Linked DNA regions of Homo sapiens: region 2 is linked to region 1. The links come from fine-mapping of genetic effects on gene expression. Tissue or cell type: whole blood. Region 1 holds a variant in brackets; the other region holds the start of a gene. All regions are shown on one strand. Distances are between the middles of the regions.

Region 1 (8,603 bases):
CCATTCCCAGGGACATGCAGGAAACAGAGGCCTTCCTCTTATCTCAACCGCAAAGAGGCCTTCCTCTTTTACTAATCCTCCTCAGCACAGACCCTTTACGGGTGTTGGGCTGGGGGACAGTAAGGTCTTTCCCTTCACATGAGGCCATATCTCAGGCTCGCTTGTACCTGGGAGGCAGAGATTGCAGTGAGCCAAGATCGCACCATTGCACTCCAGCCTGGGCAACAAGAGCGAAACTCCATCTCAAAAAAAAAAAAAAAAGTGATGGGGATATGTCAAAGGTAACTGAAAGATTTCCAAGTGGCAAAAAATTGAATTAATTTGAGCAACAAAATAATAAAATAGTACTGGATTATAACCAAAAATATGAAATAAATATTTGTGAGCCATGTAATCTAAGTAAATGATTGAATGAACAAATAAATATAAATAAATGGGGAGAAAAGACAAATCTTTTGAATTCCAAATAATTTGTGTTCTCTGCTCTCAGGAGGCAGAGACTGCAGTGAGCCAAGATCGTGCCATTGCACTCCAGCTTAAGCAACAAGAGTGAAATTCCGTCTCAAAAAAAAAAAAAAAGAAAACCGTCTAAGAGAGAGGGTTAGGGTTTGCCACCTGAGATCTCGCCCAGTAGTCTGTAACAGTGTGTCCATGTTGCTTCCAACATTCTCTTCATGATGATATGGTTATTCTCTGAGATGGTAGAGGCTTTCTCTATAGCTCTTGTCTTTTATTCATGAGCCCTCACCAGAATTGCCTTTAATGTCCATGTACCTACCAATAGTCCCTTCATGGAAATCTAGGCTTTTTCCACCAAGTATCTCAAAACTCATCCAGCCTCTGCTCACTGCCCAGTTCCAAAGCTGGTCCCTATCATTAGGTATGTTTCACAGCAGAACTCCAGTGTCAGTACCAAAATCTGCATTAGTCAGGGTTCTCCAGAGAAACAGAACCAATAGGGGTGTGTGTGTGTGTGTGTGTGTGTGTGTGTGTAAACATTTATTATAAGGAATTGGCTCATGCACTTATGGAGACTGACAAGCTGAAGACCCAAGAGAGCTGATGGTGTGGTTTGATCCACAGGCCTGAAAATCAGGTGAGCTAATGGTGGGGTTTCTACATGAAGGTCAGCAGGCCAAAGACCCAGGAGGAGCTGATATTTCTGTTCAAGTCTCAATGCAGGAAAACAACAATGTCCCAGCTCAAATGCAGGCAGGAGGAATTCCCTCTGATTTGGGAGAGGGTCCATTTTTGTTCTATTTAGACACTTGTCTGATTGGACAAGGCCCACCTTCAGTGGGGAGGGCAATCTGCTTCGCTCAGTCTATCAATTTAGATGTTAAGCTCATCCAAAAACACCCTCACAGAAACACTCAGAATAGTGTTTCACCAAGTATCTGGTACCCCATGGGCTGGTGAAATTGACACATGAAATTAACCATCGCAGCAGAACTGTCAGAAAGACGTTTTAAAAATAGTGATAACATCAAATGCTCACAAGGAGGTTGAGAATCACTAAGTCATTCATTCATTGCTGGTGGGAATGCAAAATGGTACAGCCATATTCACTCCGGAAAATAGTTCGGCTGTTCTTTTTAAAGCTAAAACTTGACTCACCCTATGACCCAGCTATTGCACAATTGAGCTTTTATTCCAATGAAATGAAAACTTGTTTTCATACAAAAACTCTACATAGCAGATTTATGCACAGTGCCCAGAAACTGGAAACTCCTTAAATGTCCTTCAATGGGCATAGGGGTAAATAAACTGTGGTACATCCTCATCATGCAATATTACTCAGCAATAAAAGGGAATAAACTGTTAATACATGTGACAATTTGAATGAACCTAAGGAAACTATGTTGAATGGGTGGGAGAGCCAATTTTAAAAGGATGCATACTTCA[T/G]GAATCCATTTAGATAACATTTTTAAATAACACAATCACAGAGATGGATAACATATTAGTGGTTTCCTTGGATTAGGTATGCAGCGGTGATGGAGCTGTGACTGTAGAGAGGTAGCATGAGGAGAGGTCTGATGATGATGATATAGTTAAACAACTTGATTGTCATGCTGATTATATGAAGCTATACATGTTAAAAATCACAAGTTATACCCACATATAGAATGCATGCATAAATAGCGAAACCTGAATAAGCTCCATGGATTGTATCAATGTTGATTTCCTGGTTTTCCATTGCACTATAGTTATACAAGATGCTAAGATTGGAGAAGGATAGGTAAAATGTGCCTGGGTATTCCCTGTATATTTCATTGCAACTTCCAATGACTCTACAATCTTCCAAAATACACTTTTTTAAAAAAAACAGAGGACCCAACTATATGCTGTCTAAAGACACCCACTTTAAGTATAATGACATACATCGAAATGTAAGAATAAAAAAAGATAAACCATGAGATACTAATAAAAAATGTGGGCTAGCTGTATTAAGTCAAATAAAGCAGAACTTAGAAAATATTAAAAGAGATAAAAAATATTACAAGAGATCAAAGAGGGCATTACATATAATAAAAAAGTCAATTTACCAAGAAGATATCATAATGCTTAAATGCATAGGCACCTATCATTAACAGAGTTTAAAAATACATGAAAAAAAAATCTGGCTGGGCGCAGTGGCTCACGCCTCTAATCCTAGAACTTTGGGAGGCCAAGGTGGGCAGATCGTTTGATGTTAGAAGTTCAATATCAGCCTGGCCAACAGGGTGAAACCCTGTCTCTACTAAAAATATAAAAATTAGCTGGGCATGGTGGTGCATGCCTGTAATCCCAGCTACTCAGGAGGCTGAGGCAGGAGAATCACTTGAACCCAGGAGGTGGAGGTTTCAGTGAGCCAAGATGGGTCCATTGCACTCCAGCCTGGGCCACACAGCAAGACTCTGTCTCAAAAAACAAAACAAAACAAAAAAAATCCAATAACTCAAAGGAGAAATATTCAAATCCACAATTATATTTGGAGAATTTAACAGTCCTGCCTCAGTAACCAATAGAACAAGCATATAGAGAAACAGCTAGAATATGGAAGACCTGACCAACACAATCACTCAATTGGACTTATTTGGTCAAATCATTCATTAAGAACATCAGACTATGCTTTCTTTCAAGTGTATATGAAACATTCACCAGTATAGAACATACTCTAGGTCACAAAACAAATCTTAACGGAAGTTCAAAAACAAATTTTTAGAAATAGAAATTGTATAAAGTGTATTCTCTGATCCTATCAGAATTAAACTTAATAACAGAAAGATGTCCGATGAATCCCTCAAATATTTGAAAATTAAACCACTCACCTCTAAATAATCCATGGGTCAAAAGTGAAACATAAGGGGAAATCAGAAAACCTTTTGAACTAAGTAAAAATGAAAATACAGCATATCAAAATGTGTGGGATACAGATAAAGCAGGATTAGAAAATTCATAGCATAAAATAATTATATTCAAAAACAAGAAAATTCTCAAATCAATCATTTAAGTTCTTCCTTTAAACAACTAGAAAAACAAGAGAAAGTAGAAGGAAGTAGATAATAAACATAAGAGGAGAGATCTGCAAAACTCAAAACAGTAGAATACAGAAAATTGATGAAACTGATAATCAGTTCTTAAGGAAGATCAATAAACTGGATAAACCTTTAGCCAGAATGTTGAACAGAAAAAAAAAAAGAGAGAAAACACAAGTTACCAACATCAGGAATTAAGGAGATGAAATCATTTCAGAGTCTATAGACACTTAAAGATAATAAGGAAATACTAGGAACAACTCTACGCCCATAAATTTGACAACTTGGAAGAAATAGACCAATTTCTTAAAAGACACAAACTACCAAAAGTCACAAAAGAAAAAACATATTTCCTGAATAGTCCTATAGCTATCACAAAATTTGAATTCTTAGCTAAAATCCCTCCAAAAATAAAAACTCCCAGCCGACATTGTTTCACTGGTTAATTCTAATCACATATTTAAGAAATACCAATTTTACACAATCTCGTCCAGAAAATATGAAGAGATACAATAATTCTTACCTCATTTTATGAGCCATCATTACTCTAATACTAAAACCAGACAAAAATATTACAAGAAAAAAATTACAAAAATTATCCCTGATGAACAAAGATGTAAGAATCTTTGACAAAATATTAGCAAATCAAGTCCAGTAGTATCTTAAGAAATAACACAAGAATGATGGCAACATTCTAAAACTGGATTGAGACAATAGATGCATAACTCAATAAATTTACTTTAAAAATCATTGAATTGGAAATGGATGAGTTTCATGGTATGTAACTTATATTGCAGTAAGTCTGTTTTTTAATAAATAAACAAGATGATACAATACTACCAAGTGGGAATTATCCCAGGAATGAAAGGCCATGCAACAATTGAAACTGAATCAATATAATGCACCACACTATCACTCTAAAAAAGAAAAGCCATGTGACCATCTCAAGAGATGTGGGGAAAGCATTTGACAAAGTTCACCAATTGACTTATGATAAAAAACCGTCAGCAACCTAGGAACAGAAGGGAAACTAACTTAATCTGACAAAGAGCAACTACAAAAATCTACAGCCAACATCCCACCTGATGGTGGAATATTGAATGCTTCCCACCTAAAATAAGGAACAAGGCAAGGATAGCCACTCTCATCTCTCGTTTTCAAAATTTTAATGGAAGTCCTAAACAGTACCAAAGAGAGAGAAAAAAATTAAAACTTACAGATTGGAAAGGAAGGAATAAAACATTTTATTCCCAGACCAAATAATTAAATAGGAAATCTCAAGGAATCTACAGAAAAACTCTTGGAATTAATAAGTGAATTCAGCAAGCTCACAGAATACAAGATCAAAACACAAAAAGCCATTTTATTTCTATATACTAGCAATGAACAATTGCTTTAAGTGCCACTTACAATAGCACTTAAAAATGAACTACTAAGGGATAACTCTAACAAGATATGTGCAAGATCTGTATGTGGAAATCTATAAAGCCCTGATAAAATAAATTTTAAAAATCCAAATAAATAAGATACACCAGGTTCATTGATTGGACAACTATGGAAGACACAGATAGTTAAGATGCTTATTGTCCCCAAACTTATCTGCAGGCATAATGTAATCCCAACCAAAATTCTAGTAGGGTTTTTCACAGATACCAATGAGCTGATTCTAAAATTTCTATGGAATGGCAAAGGAACTAGGATATTCTAAATAAATTTGAATAAGAATAGCAAAGTTAAAGAGCTCCCACTGCCTGAATTCAAGATTTACCATAAAACTGCAGCACTGAGACCTATCTATTGGTAAATGAATGAACATGTAAGTGAATGAAACATACAGAGTCCAGAAATAGACCCACACAACTATAGTATATTGATTTTCTTTAAGATGCAAAGGTGGTTCACTGGAAAAATGAGTCTTTTCAACAAATGGTGTTGGAGTTAATGCAAATAAATAAATAAAACTTGATTCATAAATCACATTTTATGCAAAAATTAACACACAAAAAAAATGATTGAACTTTTAGAAGAAAATACTAGAGAAATATCTGTGACCATGGATTAGGCAAACACTTGTTAGGTAAGACACCAAAACATAATCCATAAGAAAAAATTGACAAATTGTAGTATGTAATTTATATTGTAATAAATCTATTTTAAAATAAATAAATAAATGATATGTTATGACCAAGTGGGATTTATCCCAAGAATAAAAGGCTGTGCAACAATTAAAAATGAATCAAAAAAATCAGCCAGGCACAGTGGCTCACACTTGTAATCCCAGCACTTTGGGAGGCTGGGGCGGGCAGATCCCTTGAGACCAGGAGTTCGAGACCAGCCTGGCCAACATGGCAAAATCCCATCTCTACTAAAAATACAAAATTGGCTGGGTGTGGTGGCACATGCCTGTAATCCCAGCTACTCGGAGGCTGAGGCAGGAGAATAACTTGAACCAGGGAGGCATAGTTTGCAGTGGGTGGAGATCGCACCATTGCACTCCAGCCTGGGTGACCAAGTGAGACTCTGTCTCAAAAAAACAAAAAAAAAAAGGAAAGGAAAGAAAATGAATCCAAATTTACTTTATCAAAATCTAAAACTTTTGTTCTACAAAGGAAACTCTCAATGTAAATAAAAAGACAAACCAGCCGGGTGCAGTAGCTCATGCCTGTAATCCCAGCACTTTGGGAGGCCGAGGCAGGCAGATCATGAAGTCAGGAGTTCAAGACCAGCCTGACCAACATGGTGAAACCCCATCTCTACTAAAAATACAAAAAAATTAGCCAGGCACGGTGGCACACGCCTGTAATCCCAGCTATTCAGGAGGCTGAGACAGGAGAATCACCTGAACTCTGGAGGCAGAGGTTGCAGTGAGCCAAGGTCACGCCACTGCACTCCAGCCTGGGCAACAGAGTGAGACTCCATCTCAAAAAAAAAAAAAAAAAAAAAAGCAAACCACAGAGAGAAACATCTGGAAATTACACATCTGACAAAAGACTGCCTAAAGAACCCTCAACACTTAATGAGAAAACAAACCCAAAAGAAAAATGGGCAAAAAATTTAAACAGACACTTCACTGAAGAAGACACACAGACAGCAAATAAACACATGAAAAGATGTCCAACATTGTTAGCCTTTGGGGAAGTGCCAATTAAAACAACTACACATCTATTCAAATGCAAAACAAAAAAAACCCTGACGATATCAAGTGGTAACATGCACACAGAACAACCAGAACACTCATATATTAATGGTGGGAATGAAAAACTTGTCCAGCCACTGTGGAAAACAGCTTGGCAGTGTCTTCGAACATTAAAAGTCCACCACCATATGTCCCAAGAATCCCATACCTCAAGAGAAATGAAAACTTACATTCACAGAGAAACGTGTATGCAAATGTTTATAACAGCTTTATCCATAATCACCAAAAACTGAAAACACTCCAAATGTCCTTCACTGGTGAGTCAGTAAACAAAGGGCATGCATTTAATGGCGATTTTTCCATAATACATAAAAGGAGCCAGTCTCAAGAGGCTATGCGCAGAACAAGTCCATGTATGTGACTTCTGGCAAAGGCAAACTGCCAGGATGGAGAACAGAGCTGAGGCTGCCAGCGTGGCGGTGGGGGGCAGGCGGTGAGGTTGGTCTACATCTTGATTATGGGAATATTACACGACTCTGCAAGTGTCAAAAGTCCTACAACTGGACACCAAAAAGAGTGAATTTTACTGACTCTAAATTTTAAAAATATTTTTTAAATACTCAAAAAAGTTATTAACACAACTTTGTTAATGTTGGTTTTTATCTTCACTTTAGACAAATGGCACGGCTTCATGCTGTTCTCGGCTCTCTTTTCTGATCATGGACCAGTGTTTCTGTGGGTGGGAGCAGCTGGGTCCTTCTCTCGCTCTGCTAAGGTATCATGGGCACGGGTGGGAGTGAGTGGGTCCTTCTCTCCCTCTGCTCAGATGTCATGAGCACACATCCCCTGCCTCTGGCACCTGTACCACCTATAACCAAGCTTTTTCTGGCATCCTCTTTTTATTTGGCTTTCGTTGTGACATTTTTTCATCACTGAACATCTTTAGAGTTTTCCTCAAAGGTGCTGACATTTTTGTGGCTTTCAAAATTCTGAAATTAAGAAAATTATCATCCTCCACATAAGTTTATATTTTCTACTTACTTTTCTAATATTTTCTTTTCATATTTAGACATTTGATTCACGAGAGCCTTTTTTGCAGTAAGGTATAGGGTCGGAGTAGATTCTTCCAAATGTAAACCCACTAACAACAGTGTTTATCAACCTCCAGGCCTCTCCATCAGGCTTACGTTGTCATGGCAGAAATAACTGCTCACATTTCTAGTCTCTGTGCTCTGGGCTAATACTGTGCCAGGAACATGGAGAAGGCCACCAAGAAACTGGCTGGCTCACTCAGCCCAGCGTGGCAGCAGCAACTCCAGCATTTAATGCAGAACTGAGAGGCAAATAACTGCATCCAGGCAGGAAAGGTGCCTTTGCCAATTCTGGGTCCAGCTAGTTCTGGACTGACGTCTTGCACACTCACACACTCACACACACACACAGCAGGCAGGTATGTATCAGGCCTGGAGTCACCACCACTCCAGGGATGGTTTCCCTTGAGCCCTTGAGACCAGAGCCCTCTCAGAGCCACTGTTCCCTTCGCTGAGGTCTGCATCGCTGGGTCAGTAATCACCAGGAGAACCCCTAAACCCACTTTCCCTGGAGCTGTGGAGGTGCTGCAGAAAGATGTTACCAAAACGCCAAGGGTTTGGTCTAGGACCTGTTGCTCGCTGCACAGAAAGCCAGTCAGTGAGACAACGGGGACTGCCAGGAAAGAAGGGTTTAATCAGATGCTGCAGCCGAGGGGATGGGAGATCAGTGTCAAATCCATCTCCTCGACCAACTGAAATGAGGGGCTTATATAGCAGGGAAGAAATGTAATGATGTGTAAGAAAACAGGAATTAACGGAAGGGTGAGGAAGAGGAGTCAGTCAGCAGGCAGCCAGTGGTCAGTTAGACAATCATGAGGGGCGAGGGGCCCAGAGTCTCACTGTCCAAGTGCAGTGATC
Region 2 (6,301 bases), 31 kb after region 1:
ACAGGGAGGTGACCTCAGGCTGGTTCTGCCACTGAGGCCCTGAGGAATCAGGCCCTCCCCAAAAGAAGTAATGAAATGGACCAAAGGACTTAAGAATTTGGGGGGAAGTAAGGGGAAAACGTTAGGTGCTAACCACCTGCCCAGAAGAGTGGATCTCACAGCCCAGGAACATTCCCAAGCAGGAAAACCATCCGTCCAGGAACCCTAACCCTAAAACTAAGCACAACCCCTACCCCTAACCCCTGACCCTAACGCTGACCCTTAACCATAACCCTTAACCCTAACCACTAACGCAAAACACTAACCCTTAACCCTAACCCCTAACACCTAACCCCCACCTCAAGCACTAAACCCTAAGCCTAAACCTTAACCCTAACTGCTAACACTAACCCATAACCCTAAGCCCTAGCCCCAACCCTAAACTTGACCCTGAACCCAAGCCTCCAACCCAACCCCGACACAAACCCCTAACCCTAACCCCTAATTCTAGCCCTAATCCCTAAATCCAACACCAACCCTTGACCGGACCCCTGACCCCTAACCCTAACCTCAACTCATAACCTCAACCCCTACTCCTACACCTAACCCCTACCCTAATGCTAGCCATAAACCTAACACCCAAACCCAAACTCGAACCTATGCCTACCCCTAAAACCCTAGCCCGAACCGTAACCACAAATCCTAACACACAACGCTACCCCTAAACCTACCACTACCCCACCCCAAACCCTGACACCGAACCCTGAAGCTAACCCTAACAACACTAAGCCTAACCTGCAACCCTTAACCCAACTGTAACTCCTAATGCTAACCCTAACCCTAACCCTAACAACACTAAGCCTAACCCCTAACCCTTAACCCAACTGTAACTCCTAATGCTAACCCTAACCCTTAACTCTAACCCCTTACCCTAAACTGTAACCCCTAACCCTAATCCCAACCCCAACACGTAACCCTAACCCCTATCCCCTACCCTAAAACCCTAACCCTTACAAACCTTAGCCAAATCCCAAACCCTAACCCCCACCCCTGACCCTAATCCCCTAGCCCCCAAACCCTAACCCCAATACCCTAACCCCAACACTAAAACCCTGACCCTAACCGTAAAACCCTACCCCTACCCCGACCCTAGCCCAACCCTAACCCTACCCCAATCCTTCCCCTACCCCTAACACTAACCCCAAACCCTAATTCTAACCCCACTCCTAACCCCAAAACTAACTTCTAACCCCTAAACCCTAACCCCAACCCCAACTCTAACCTTAATCCCTAGCTCTAATCTGTAGCCCTAACCCTAAACCCTAAGGTAACCTTTTATAGGTTAGGATTCGAGGCTTCGTATTTAGGACAGGCAGGTGTTCTGATGTCTCCCACTCACCTGCACGGTAAAGTTCTTCCCCTGGCTCTTCACAACCAGTCGCGATGCATCGCGGCCTCCCCTGGCCGGTGAAGGGCTGGGTTCTCCCGAAAGCCTCTGCTCCTCCTCCCTCCTCCCAGGGCCCTCCGGGCCTCCACGGTGGCCCCAGCGCGGCAGGGACCGTGCAGAAGGGACCGTGGGCTTGTGGCCGGCCTCGGCCACTGTGGGCATGGAGCTCACGGGAACGCGGCCTAGGGGCAGGCTACGCTCCTCTGCGCGCGCAGGAACAGCGGGCCCAGCGGGGGCTGCCGCAGATTTCACTCGCTGGGGCCCGTGCACTCCCGCGGCGGTGTGGTCCCGCAGAGCCGCAACCTCATGAGGCTGCCAGGGCCACAGCGCCTTGTGGAGTCGTCATCCGTCAGACACGCACACTTCACAGGAAGCTTCGGCGCTACACATGCGTACTGCTCGTTGGTGGGGAGGGCCTCCAGAACCAGGGCCGGTCCCCTCGGAAGCCAGCGCACATGCGCGGGGGCACCCGGCAGCGGGCCAATCGCAAGCCTGGACGGCCGCACGTGGCCCTGGCGGGCTTCCCGCCGCGTTTGTAGCCCTCGCGCCTTTACGCATGCGCACTAGTGCCACGCAGGCCTGCCGGAGAATTACCTCACATCTCCAGGCGCGCGCAGGAGTGCATTGCGCAGGCGCGCTGCCTGGAGTCCTGCCCCCAGCGGCGGTTGCTCCAATCACCACTGGAGGCTCCCTCCCGAGGCACCCTCGCTGGCGAGCTGAGAGGAAATGGCGGGGAGGTCCCTGACATCGAAGGCCGAGCCCACCGCAGGAGCCGTGGACAGGGCTGAGAAGGCCGGAGGTAGTGGTGGGAGGCAGGGAACTGTGCGTGAGGGTCTGACCTCGCCGAGGCGGGGCAGGGTTGGGGCGCGGGTGGCGGCTGCTTCTTCCTGTCAGTCCTGATGCTGCTGATTGAGACTTAGCGGGTTTCTTCAGAAAAATTTCGGCCAAGATGAGGGAGTGCTTGCCCGCACACCCCCCACTTTGTCTTAAAGCATTGAACTGTTATCATAGTTGCTCCAATTTTGGTTTAGGTAATTAGTCAAAAGACATCCCTTCCCGTTGTCCCACAGACTTTACATACACACCTCTTAAAACAAAAAGGATATTTTCCTGACGCTCCCAATCCCAAGGGAATTCCTAATTCCACCTTCCTCTCCCTAGAACCAGCAAGTGTCCAGATTTCCCAGTCGCACTAAACTGGTTCTTGACAGTGGGGCCCCCCACCCAGCATCCCGACGCCCCGGGGAGCCGGGGGAGGCCGACTCCACGCAGATCCCCCGTTTGTTTCTCCCTGACCCCGACCTGCCATAGTGGCTCCTACCTCACCCTGGGAAGGGAGGGGACAGGCAGCTGGTCAGAGTTGTACAGAAGTCCAGAAATTGCAGCCCAACAAAGAGAAAGGACACTGTCCTGGCCGTTTCCACTTCAGGACACTGTGTGCCTCTGGGTGTTCTGTGAGGATTTTCAAACTTACAGAAAAGTGGAGAGAATTGTACGGTGACGTCCCTCCTGCTGTCACTCAGCTTGTCATTCTGTCCTGAGATCATCTGTCCCCCTTGAGTTAAAACTCTGCAATTAACAAACGTCGGTGGCTGCCTCCAGCCCTACCTGCGTGAATGCCATGGCAGGTGCTCTGTCATGTTCTTACAAAATGAAGGTTTGAATACTGAAACAAGCTTAGCACAGAAAGCATCCCTACAGTGAGATGTGGCACAGTGAAAGCCCCAGCGAAGGACAAAGCAAGTAAACAGGACAGACGCAAACGTATCCCTTTCATTAAGCACCTGCTGGCCCGCCGGTGTGCTAGCCTTTCAGTATCATGGCTCCATGTTCCTCACATAACCTAGTATATTTAGGTAAGTTTTAACCAATGTCGCTTGTGCCTTAGTTCAAACTGCTACAACAGAAATGCCTTATTTCTCACAGTTTTCGAGGCTAGAAGTTCAAGATCAAGGTGCAATTCAGCGTCTGGTGGGGGCCTGCTTCCTGGCTATAGACTTCTGTCTTCTCATTGTGTCCTCATGTTGGGGAAGTTGCTGCAGACCTCTCTGGTCTTATAAGGGCACTAATCCCATTGCTGAGGGCCCTACTCTCATGACCTAATCACCTCCCAAAGGCCCCACCTCCTAATGCAGTCACACTAGGGGGTTAGGATTTCAACATACGAACTATGGATGGGGGCACAAACATTCTATAGTGACCAGCTACAGAAGAAATTTAAAGGACAAGATTCCAGTTTTAGTCTATCTGTTTTAAAAAGGAAGCAGGGATGTTATCTAGGGTCAGTGACACTAGATACATTTTAGTAAAAAGTCTATTAGTCTTCACCTAACTGGCTGCAGTTATTACTAGAAAGGGGAATGACTGGGGAAAGGGAATGTTGGTGTTTCAATTTTTTCTTCATACTTTTTCACACATGCCAATTACTTGAATAATTTAAAACTTAATGCAAAAATTTATGAGCAGTAATTTGTGTAAGATTTCAGGTGGGACCAAAATGAGGGGACTCCATAAACTCAAAAATAAGCATTTCACAAAATTTTATGCTTGATTTTTTTTTTTTTTTGAGACGAGATTGTGCTTTGTTGCCCAGGCTGGAGTGCAGTGGTACAATCACTGCTCACTGCAGCCTTGACCTCCTGGCCTCAAGAGATTCTCCCACCTCAGCCTCTTGAGTAGCTGGAATCACAGGTACATGTCACCATGCCCAGATAATTTTTTTAAATTTTTTATTTGTAGAGAGAGGGTCTTGCTGCATTGCTCAGGCTGCTCTTGAACTCCTATGCTTGAGCAGTCCTCCTGCCTCAGTCTCCCAAAAGTGCTGGGATTATGGATGTGAACCACTGAGCCTGGCCTTATGCATGTATGCATGATTTTTAATGGCTGTAAATGATTTCATCCTGTGTATGTGCTATAATTTATTTAACAAATCCCCTAAGGCATATTTAGGCTTCTTCGAGTTTTTCACTATTATAAACAATACAGTGATGAACACCTTGCCCATTAGCCATATCCAGAATTACTTAGGACATAGTCTTAGAAAATAAGATGCACCCAAACTTTTGATATTTACTATCAGAAAGTTTGTAAGGAGACACCTTAATTTTGCATATCTGGTTGACAAAGATAAACACGTTTGGAAACATAGGTGATTGGTAAAAATGAAAAACTGGGCATCTTGTATACATCAGTGTAAGGTAATTTGGTATTGTCAATCAAAACTGTTACAAACTTTGGTCAGGTGCCTCTGAGCCTTCTCAACCGTGCCTCGGCCTTGGCCTTGGCCTGTGATATGGTTTGGATCTGTGTCCTCACCCAAATATGTTGAATTGTAATCCCCAATGTTGGAGTTGGGGCCTGGTGGGAGGTGGTTGGATCACAGGAGACCAATTTTATTTAGATAGTGACTACCTATCTTTTAACTGGATCTCTGAGCTCTGGGAAGAGGCCACACTGAATCCTGGGTCTGCAAAAAGGGAGAATTATTATGAGGCTCGACCACATGGATGCTTTTACAGTGTACTTAAAAAACATTAAAAAAATATTTCTAAGTGTCTAAAATATACTCTTCCTTAAAAATGCAGGAGTAGCTTCTGTTGCAATAATTAATAAACAAAAAAATCAGGTAACACAATACAAAAGCAAACAGTTTAGGAGCTGACATGAACTTGTGTGTTTACACTCTTGGGGATACACAAGGAAAAACAATTTTCTCCACAAAAGGGAGTCTGGTGCCTTCTCCATTTTCTTTAAGGAACCTCAGGCTATTATAAACTATTTTAGGTCCCTCATGCAGCAGAGCGTTCAAGGGAAAGGAGAGACAGCAGAACTATATGAAGAAAATAGCATTCAGTCAACTGAAAAGAAAAAAAACTTTTGCCCAAAAAACACAAGGTCCTAGGAGAGAGAAAAAAGAAAAATCATGAAGCCCTTTTAAATACACACACACACACACACACACACACACACACACACACACACACACACACACACATTGGATGTTAGCTTTTAATTAAGATGACTTTTAACCATTTGAGTTTCTTTTTAAAAAATTTTTAAGATCTCATCAACATATTTCAGCTAGGACAAATATCTGCTATTTCAGAAGTACCAAGTATCAAACCAGAAAGGTCTTGATTTAGGAACCAAACCCAGGCTGTCATGGAAAAAAGAAGACAGAACCTTAGCTATGGAACTGCAGTTGGGGTGACAATCCTTTCTCTTTCAGTTTGGCCTGGCTAGCAAAAAGGTGGCCTTGTTATGTAAATAAATCCCCTTAAGTAGTCAAAATCAAAAATCTTCCCCCCCTTTTTTCCTTTTGCTGGCTGTTTTTTCTTCCCCCACCACCCCTTTTCTGGTGGGAATTTAGCCACTTCAGAGGCCTTGTTCCACATAATTTGGAACTTTCCTTTGGATTTGATCAAGTCAGAATTGGCCAAACCCAATAGGAAAAGGACCAAAACAACAAAAACAGAAAGAAACAACAACAAAAAAAAATACCAGTTAAGCAAAACAAACAAATGATCACACAACTTGTATGGTTACTGGACACTCTAATGATAAGGAAAAATTAAGACCAGCTGGTTGTTAATTTTACCTTTAGCCAAGACAAACCCCAATTCAGTTACTTACCTAGGGATGGGTCTTAGGCTGAAGACTGCTCTCTATCATCTTAGAAGCAGGAAAAAAACCCTCAAACTTGTCTTCCCTGTTGGGAGCGAGTTCAAACTCCAGAAAGGAACTTTCATGGAAGCAGGAAAACTTGCCTTCCTTGTTGGAAGCAAGAAAAACTCCAAAAAAAGAGTAGAGTTGTTTAGAAAAATAAACTTTGGATCTGGAGCGAATTTTGGGAAATGAGGGATTCCCTGGATGGGG

What was found. PIP is the estimated chance that this variant, and not a neighbour inherited with it, causes the effect.
Region 2: SYCE1 starts here. The variant in region 1 is fine-mapped to the expression of SYCE1 in whole blood (INTERVAL, PIP above 0.99).

The regions. Positions count from the first base shown.
Region 1 is chr10:133,591,445-133,600,047 of GRCh38, reverse strand. No RefSeq gene overlaps it. Among named protein-coding and RNA genes, the nearest start is that of SYCE1, 30 kb to the right of the region's middle. The variant T/G (reference allele first, on the strand shown) is at 1,906.
Region 2 is chr10:133,561,381-133,567,681 of GRCh38, reverse strand. SYCE1 (synaptonemal complex central element protein 1) reads left to right here and starts at 2,099. Exons shown (of 13, transcript NM_001143764.3): 1 at 2,099-2,225. The coding sequence starts at 2,153. It also overlaps the pseudogene SPRNP1.